Linked DNA regions of Homo sapiens: all the other regions are linked to region 2. The links come from fine-mapping of genetic effects on gene expression. A gene starts in region 2. Each other region holds a variant in brackets. All regions are shown on one strand. Distances are between the middles of the regions. Region 1 has its middle 44 kb from the start of LINC00222. Region 2 holds the start of ARMC2 (armadillo repeat containing 2). Region 3 has its middle 25 kb from the start of FOXO3.

What was found. PIP is the estimated chance that this variant, and not a neighbour inherited with it, causes the effect. A credible set is the group of variants that fine-mapping cannot tell apart.
Region 1: its variant is the best candidate, but not a certain one, in a credible set for the expression of ARMC2 in NK cells (Schmiedel 2018, PIP 0.63).
Region 3: its variant is the best candidate, but not a certain one, in a credible set for the expression of ARMC2 in caudate (GTEx, PIP 0.84).

Annotation. Positions count from the first base shown.
Region 1 is chr6:108,794,562-108,797,325 of GRCh38, reverse strand. No RefSeq gene overlaps it. Among named protein-coding and RNA genes, the nearest start is that of LINC00222, 44 kb to the right of the region's middle. The variant C/TC (reference allele first, on the strand shown) is at 1,383.
Region 2 is chr6:108,847,127-108,849,890 of GRCh38, reverse strand. ARMC2 (armadillo repeat containing 2) reads right to left here and starts at 1,469. Exons shown (of 18, transcript NM_032131.6): 1 at 1,345-1,469. RefSeq lists a silencer at 1,112-1,211.
Region 3 is chr6:108,534,058-108,536,821 of GRCh38, reverse strand. No RefSeq gene overlaps it. Among named protein-coding and RNA genes, the nearest start is that of FOXO3, 25 kb to the left of the region's middle. The variant G/A (reference allele first, on the strand shown) is at 1,576.

The DNA.
Region 1 (2,764 bases), 53 kb after region 2:
GAAGGTATGAGGCCTGAGATAAAGCATAATGGAAACAATACATGTGCATAGATACACGGTATGCCTTTACAAATACATTAAACCACAATCCACTTAAATGATAAGAATGAAACTGAAAGCTCATTCCATCTAATAAGGAGTAAAACAAATCCCTGTAAAGTCACTTGTATGACAGGATACTTGGGATAGGCTACATGATCTTAGCAGTCACCTTTGAGCTAATTCGGGCCTTTTGCCAGGCCAGGCCTGCATATCTCATTGATTAGGGCAAAACACACCAAAGAACTAAATTTAGGAACACGCAGGTGATTGGTTAGAAAAACCAGTCCACTCTGGACACAGCTGAGCCCACTAGATGGAATACATTTACAATCCTAGCAGCATTTGAGTACAGGCTTCCAGATTTCAAAGCAAAATTAGATAACTCCCTTATTCCAAATAAATTAGCAATAACTCATGACTTCAGTGACCTCGCACTTCAGTGCTTCCTAAATGAAATGTGATTTTCCTTGTTGAGATGTAATAATGCTGGGTACGTTGTTAGTTACATTATTTTTTATACTTTTTTGTGTATTTAAACTATTTTATAAAGTCTATATACCATTTGACCTAGTAGTTCTACTCACAGGAGTTTATTCTATAGATATGCTTATACATAAGCATTGTTCGTAATAACAAAGGATTTTAAATAGCTTAAAAGTTATCGAAAAGAACTGGTATGGATATTAGGCTATAGCCTTGCCGGGGGGAACTGTGTTGCCCATCAAAAGAATGAAGCAGCACTGACTGTGCTGATATGGAACCGTCTCCATTATACAGTAGTAGGAGACAAAAGCAAGAACTGAGTGTACAAAATGCTGCCATGTGCAGGTTGTTAAAAAAGATTACAAATGCGGCCGGGCACGGTGGCTCATGCCTGTAATCCCAGCACTTTGGGAGGCTAAGGCAGGTGGATCACCTGAGGTGAGGAGTTCTAGACCATCCTGGCCAACATGGTGAAACCCCATCTCTACTAAAAGTACAAAAATTAGCCGGGCGTGGTGGCAGGCATCTGTAATCCCAGCTACTTGGGAAGCTGAGGCAGGAGAATTGCTTGAACCTGGGAGGCGGAGGTTGCAGTGAGCTGAGATTGCGCCATCACACTCCAGCCTGGGGGACAAGAGCGAGACTTCGTCTCAAACAAAAACAAACAAACAACAAACAACAACAACAACAAAGATTATAAATGCATACACGCAGGGAACATCTCTAGAAGTCAATATGCCACCCTCTTCAAAAAATATCACGGCAGTAATCCAGTAATCTCTGGGGAGGGGTAGGGTGGCTAGGGGACAGGGAAGTGAGAAAAACTAGGTTTTAATGTTATGACTGGGTTTTTTTTT[C/TC]ACATTTAAATCAACTTTGTTGATATATATTATTCAATGAGTTTTTGACAAATAAATGTTATGTTCTTTTATGCTCTGACTTTGTGCATGTATTACAAAAAATAATTTTAAGGAAAAATATCTGTTTAAGCTAGATTCTTCAGAAGTTTTATAGAATAAATACTTATCTCAGATACCTTCTTTGGTCTATAAATTAGCAGTAGGAGGTGGTCACTTTGGAAAGATCAATTATTCTGATCTTAAAGGTAAATATCCTTTATGGCATTGACTCACCTGATATAGGTGGTGGGCGAGAGGAAAGGTGACCAAGAGAAGAACCAGGTGGCTCCTCTTGCTTCTAAAAGCTAAAAGCACCTCTCCCTGGACAGAAGATGGACTAGAAATATTTTTATTTTATAATCACTATATCAAAATATAAGGAGGTCTTTCTGAAACACTTGCTTATAAGCAAACGTTTCCAGACCTCTCAAAATATATAAGAATTATTCTATGTGCTAAAGCCAATTTAATGTTCTGACTGTGCCTTCTGTCAACTTAGGAGGTGGAATTTCATTTCACCTCAAATTTACTCTGCAAACTTGGTCAGAGGACTTTGGCCTCCTGCTCTATCAGGAAGGCCCTATGAGGTGGCAAAGTAAGGAGGACTGTGACAGAGGTAGGGTAATGGGCTGGGAAGGCCACAGAGTAGGGACATAGTGAATTAACCCCATCAGGGAGAGGTGAGGCAGAGGCCAAATGTGTGGGGAAGAGTCTGGAGATGTTCACCTGGTCCCGCCTGAGCTATCTAAGGAGGGAACGACTTGCTACCAAACCCTGTCATGTCACTCTCCAGTTCTTTCACAGTTACAGAGCCCATTGCCAGGGCTGGAATGCAGACTTCCCAAGCAAAGAGAATTGTTTCTCCTCTGCTTCCTCCTCTTTCTCCCCTTCCTCCTTTTGTCCCCAAAGCACCCAGCAAATGTGAAGACAGAGAAAGGAAGGAATGGTGAGCAAGAAGAATCCCTAATGCCAGTGGAGTTGGTAAGGTAAGTATACAATTTAAAGTAAAGATAAGCTAAATGTTCTGAATTGTATGTAGCCTTTTGGACAGTCTATCTAGAGGGGTTACACTCGACTGGGGAGTCGAAGCATGGCTTTCACACATCAGCTGAGTCCAGGTATCTCTGAGCATAGAGAGGGCGGCCCTCTGAAACTTCCAGGCCTCATGTTCATGTGGTGAAGGTAAGGCCACTTTCCTCTTGGTGCCAGCCCACCCGGGTATGGATCGAGCTCCCCAACTCCTTCACTGTACCATCCTGAGCAAGGTAACTCCATGCCTCATGCTTCATTTTCCTCATCTAGAACATGCGGCTAATCACAGTACCCCTCTCACAAGGCTATTG
Region 2 (2,764 bases):
CTGGACTAAGGGTTTAAATGCTGACAATTCACAGCCATGTGACCTTAGGCAATGCCTCTAATATCTCTAAGCATCAGTTTCCTCATCTATAAAAGGTGGATAGTAATAATAATTGCCCCATAGGATTGTTTGAAGAATTAAATGATATAATACATGTAAAGTGCGTTAGCACAGTGCTTTAAAAATGTTAACATTTTAAAATATGGCCCTTAAAGATGTTAACAATTATTGCCCAAGTGCTACATGATAAAAGGATACAGCAAAATCATTTCCACGAATGAAAAACTACATTTAAAAAAAGAAATTGCAAAAGAGAGAATGACGTTTGTTCAGTGTTTCTATACATAAGTTTTTTTTTATTATTATACTTTAAGTTCTAGGGTACATGTGCACAATGTACAGGTTTGATACATAGGTATACATGTGCCATGTTGGTTTGCTGCACCCATCAACTCGTCATTTACATTACGTACTTCTCCTTTTAAAAGGTGGGTGGTGGTACTTGCCTTTATGAAAACAGATAATTTTTATTAAGCATTTTATTGAATATCAGCTATGCCAAATCAACATCAACAACCAGAATCCCATAGATTAAGAAACCAGGATAAATATAATAAATGGTGCTTGCTTTTCAACCAAATTAAAGTATAATTATTATAAATCAGGGTGGGACGTAAGATCTGTTGTGTTACTTGTGGGAATGGATCACAAAAGGCATTATGTATACACTCCATGATTTTAAAGTATGTTAAATATTGTTACACATACGTTTTTATTTATTGAGGCCCTGTTGCCTGGAAGTGCCCAGATATAAACTGTATGACTCTGGCCCGGTCACCGCCTGCCTAGACAAAGCCCCTTAGTCTACCACTCTCATTCAACAAATATTACTGGGCTTCTTATTAAGCACCACGCACTTGGCTAAGTGCGACAGTACATAAATAAAAGACAACCGCTCCGGACCCCTGACAGCATGCACAGGGCACTCATCGTCTCTCTACCCCATCCGAGGACACACAGGCGGACGACGGCAGGAAGGGTCCCTGGGGAGCCGCTGGGGACACCTCACCTCCCGCTCGGACAGCGGCTCCCCCACCCACGGCAGTGCCCGCTCCTCCACGGTCCCGGCCAGGGCAGGGCGCAGCAGCATCCTCACCCCGCCCGGCCACCCTCCCACTTCGCCCCGCAGCCAGCGTCTCCATGGTAACCGTACACAAACTACCTCCCGCCGCCGCCCCGGCAGCCAGACCGCAGGGCCAGGCCGCTGCAGGGCGGGAGAGGCGGGCCGGGGAATGAGCTTGGCGAGGGCTCAGGGAAGGAGGCTTCCGACCTGACCCAAAGCACCTGTGATGAGCACTGGAGATAGCAGCGGCTGCGAGGTTCAATTCATCCTCCGGCTCTCCCCGGGTAGCGGCCAGGGATGCAGCGCTGGCGCGGGCGGGGTAACCCCACGACGCCGCTCGGCCACTGGGCCTGCGCGGGTCCCGCCAACGCATGCGTAGAAGCTCCGAGGCGTGGCGACGGCCGGAGCGGGTGGGAGGAGCCTGGAGAGGGCTGTAGGCCGGGAGGTCAGATCAGAGCAGGCGTCGTGGGCGGGTGTCCGCTTTTCGTTTAGCAATTTGCCGAACCACATTTGTTGCTCCCCTGCCGGATCCCAGCACCTCTGTTAAATAACAGCAGGCAGGACGGAAGCTTAATGCTTGTGGGTAAGAAGGATTTACTGGCTCAGGTTAGGGCTCTGTATAACCTGGAGCCACTTGCTGAGCTTCTGTTTCCTCCGATGTCAAGTGGCAGGAAATATTAATAATAGTACCTAGGTAGGTCTTGGGCTGTTATGAAGACTGCATGAGAAAATAGATGTAAAGCGCTATGCACGTGGCAATCAACGAATATTAAACTGTTGGCTGTTATTAAGCCCTTGCATTTGTACAGCCCTTCAGTTCGCAGAGTGTATGCACGTAATCGTACCTTCTGAGTCTGAGGTAGGCAGCCTGGCGTCCCCATCCACAGGAGAGGAACTGGGGGCCTGAGGTGTAGTGAGCAGGAGAAGGAGATTCCAGTCTAGGTCTCCCGTGGCCAATCGTTTTTTGTTCGTGCATCATCACAGTTGAACGGCAAAAAGCACTCCATTTATGTGTTTCTAGTTTAAATTCCCTTTTCTCCTGTTAGACCATTTAGCAACACTGTACAGTGTTAAATAAAAGTGAGATCATAAGCACTCTCCATTCAGGTTTGCACCACGTTTTATAAATATGGAGATTTTCCAGCTGAAGTGCTATTTGTCATCAACACTGGGAAAATGCCACTTCCCTTGGTGCTAAGCATCTTGTAAAGAATAATTAAATTGAAAATATTTTTGAGCACATACTATGTGTAAGGCATCGTGCCAGGTGGGAAATTATACTAACCTGAACTAAAGGAATGTAAATATTCTTCAAAATACTCAAGAGGATTTCAAACATAACAGAAAATAAATACCTATTCGTTGATTGGATAATTTTAGGACCCGAAACAGCCCTGGATTTTTCTGCTCATTCTTAGATAACTGACAGTCTTGTTGTAACTAAATCTCAACCACAGCTTCATTTCAAAACTATAATGTTGGGTGCAAGATATAAACAAATGCATCAAACTTCAAAAAGTCTTCCTCCCCCATTCCAGCCCCAGGCTTAAGGTCTCTAGCTGGCCTTCCCTGAAGGGGTGCACTAGGCTTAGGCTTGTCCCCGACCCCCACCCGCCCCTCTATTCACTAGAGGTTGTTTAA
Region 3 (2,764 bases), 310 kb after region 2:
AGACTCGGTGGCTCATGCCTGTCATCCCAGCACTTTGGGAGGCCAAGGCTGGAGGATCACTTGAGCCCAGGAGTTTGAGACCAGCCTGGGCAACATAGGGAGACCCTGTCTCTACAAAATCAAAAAAAAAAAAAAAAAAAAAGTAGCCAGCCCTGCCTCCCTGTAATCCCAGCACTTTGGGAGGCTAAGGCGGGTGGATCACCTGAAGTCAGGAGTTCACGACCAGCCTGACTAACATGGTGAAACCCTGTCTCTACTAAATACAAAAAAATTAGCTGGGTGTGGTGGCACATGCATGTAATCCGAGCTAATTGGGAGGCTGAGACAAGAGAATGGCTTGGACCTGGGAGGTAGAGGTTGCAGTGAGCCGAGATGGCACCATTGCACTCCAGCTTGGGCAACAAGAGCAAAACTCCATCTCAAAAAAAAAAAAAAAAAAAATTAGCCAGGCATGGTGATGTGTATCTGTAGTCCCAGCTGCTTGAGAGGCTGAGGTGGGAGGATCACTTGAGCCCAGGAGGTTGGGCTTGAGCTTGCAACGAGTCATGATCATGCCACTGTACTCCAGCTTGGGTGACACAGTGAGACCCTGTCTCCAAAAAAAAAAAAAAAAAAAAAAAAGCCTTCTTTAGGAAGGTTAAATGTTACTCAATATTAAGTCCTTGTTTCCTAATCTTAGTTAATCATTAGGTTCACTGATGACACTTATTTTAAAAGTACAGTTTTTTGGGCCTCTCCAAAGAAGATCCAAGTTCAATAAGTTTGGCATGGGGCTGAATAGTCTGTATTAGCTTCCCAGGTGGTTCTGATGGTTCACTAGGTTTGGGGAACAATGTAGGAAGTCATCCTTAATTATCATCCAGCAAACAGTATCAATGGCGAACTCTACTTGCATGAGAGCTCAATAGTGTGAAGAAAATAGTGTTAAAGAAGTGAACATTTTTGCTGAGAATGTGCTGATTATAATGTTCTCATATGTAATATAATGACATATTTGGTCAGATTCTCCCAATGAATGATGATGTCCAGAACATGCCGGCACCTCAGGGTGCCCTCTTCAGGAGCCTCTTGGGTGGCCGAGGACCCCCAGTCCTCCCTACCTGAGAGGAGGGTCGTACAGGTCACCCTCAGTACTTCCAACCGCAGCAACTCAGCCCTTGGAAAAACCAACACCCTGACTTTGTTAATCTTCCAGAGAGCAGGCGAGCACCAAGACCCTGGGAGAGGCTGCCGCACACACACGAGGAGGGACCAGAGCTCAGGTGTCTGAACTTGTGGTCATGAGCCCCTGGAGAATCTATGCAAAACCTCAGCAGATTTTTGTGCAGAACTTGGTTACAGTGGAGATTTCTGAGCATTCATCCTCAGCTTCTTGGTGGAGCCCATGACAACAAAAGGTTAGGGCCTCAGCTTAGAGAATGAGTTCACGTCACCAAGCACAGATTATCCTCGGCCCTTTGCAGTCTGTCTCACAGGAGAAGGTTTGCACTGGGAGGAAGACCTAAAGTCCACCCTCCATTCTGCTTCATGTAGGCAGAGGGAGCAGAGGGCACACGTGCAAACATGAAGGGCCGT[G/A]AGTGCTGCGCAGAGAAGCCGGAAGGTGAAGGCCAAGCTACCCCAGGCCAGGGTCCAAGAATAGGAGTGGAGGAGTGACATCTGGCCATCATCTGTGCCTCTGAGCCCCTAGCAGGTTCCTCAGGGCTGCCTCTACTCATCTTCCAGATGGAACTGAAATGCCAGCCTGAAGAATGGGAGCCTGTGACCCAGCATCTCTCTCAGAATAGGAAGGGGGTTTGAGGACAATCGTAGATAACAATTGCTGGCTAATGAATGTCTGCGCAGTGCTGGGCACTGTGAGTAATGATCTCTGATGCCCACAGCACCCTGCAAGGTTGGTATTCTTTCCCCCATTTTACGAATGGGGAGATGAAGGTTGAGCAACTTTGGCTAACACACCAGGTCACACAGCAGGTATTTAACCCGGGTCTGAATCCAAATGAAGCTGGGTGAGTGAGGAAGCCGAGCTCCATACTAACTGGGGTTTGCCTATCATGGAGCTGAGAACCTAGCCGGCCTCTCTTGATCCCAGTCCAGACCCTTCTGCCACATGTGGAGCTTGGAAAGAATGAATGAACACAGAAAGCAGGTTCAGCACTGCAGAGGATGTAAATAGGGGCAGATGCAGGCTGTCAAGTAAAGAACAGGCTGAGGACACCCTCCCTGGCCCCTGCCCCCTGGGGCATAAATTCTAGCCTTCAGGCACAGTTGAAGGGGACTGAAACTCAGTGGCACAAACTGGGGACAAACCAGAGCCTTGGAGGAGAAAGCCTTCCCCAAACCAAGTGTCAAGGTGGGTCTAGAGAGCACACACAGGCTGCAGATTCAGTTCAGTCTGAATAAGGACGGTGCCCTGGGTCACAGCAAGAAGAGGGACCTGCCTTTAGCTGTCATCAGGTTGCCGTGGGGCCCTCTAACTTATGCTATGACAAGAGCTCTGAGTGCCAATATTCTGCCTGCTCCTTCTCCATCTCCATGAAGGAGTCCCCTCCCAACCACCACAGCAAATCCTCTCTTCCTTCCTCTTTCTTTCTCTCTCTCTCTTTTTTCTTTCTTCATCTTTTTTCTTTTCTTTCCTTTTCTTTTCTTTCTTCTTTCTTTCCTTCCATCCTTTCTTTTCCTTCCTTCCTCCCTCTTTCTTTTCCTTCCTTCCTTTCCTTTTTCTTTCTTTTTCTCTTTCTCCCTTCCCCTTCCCCTTCCTTCCTCT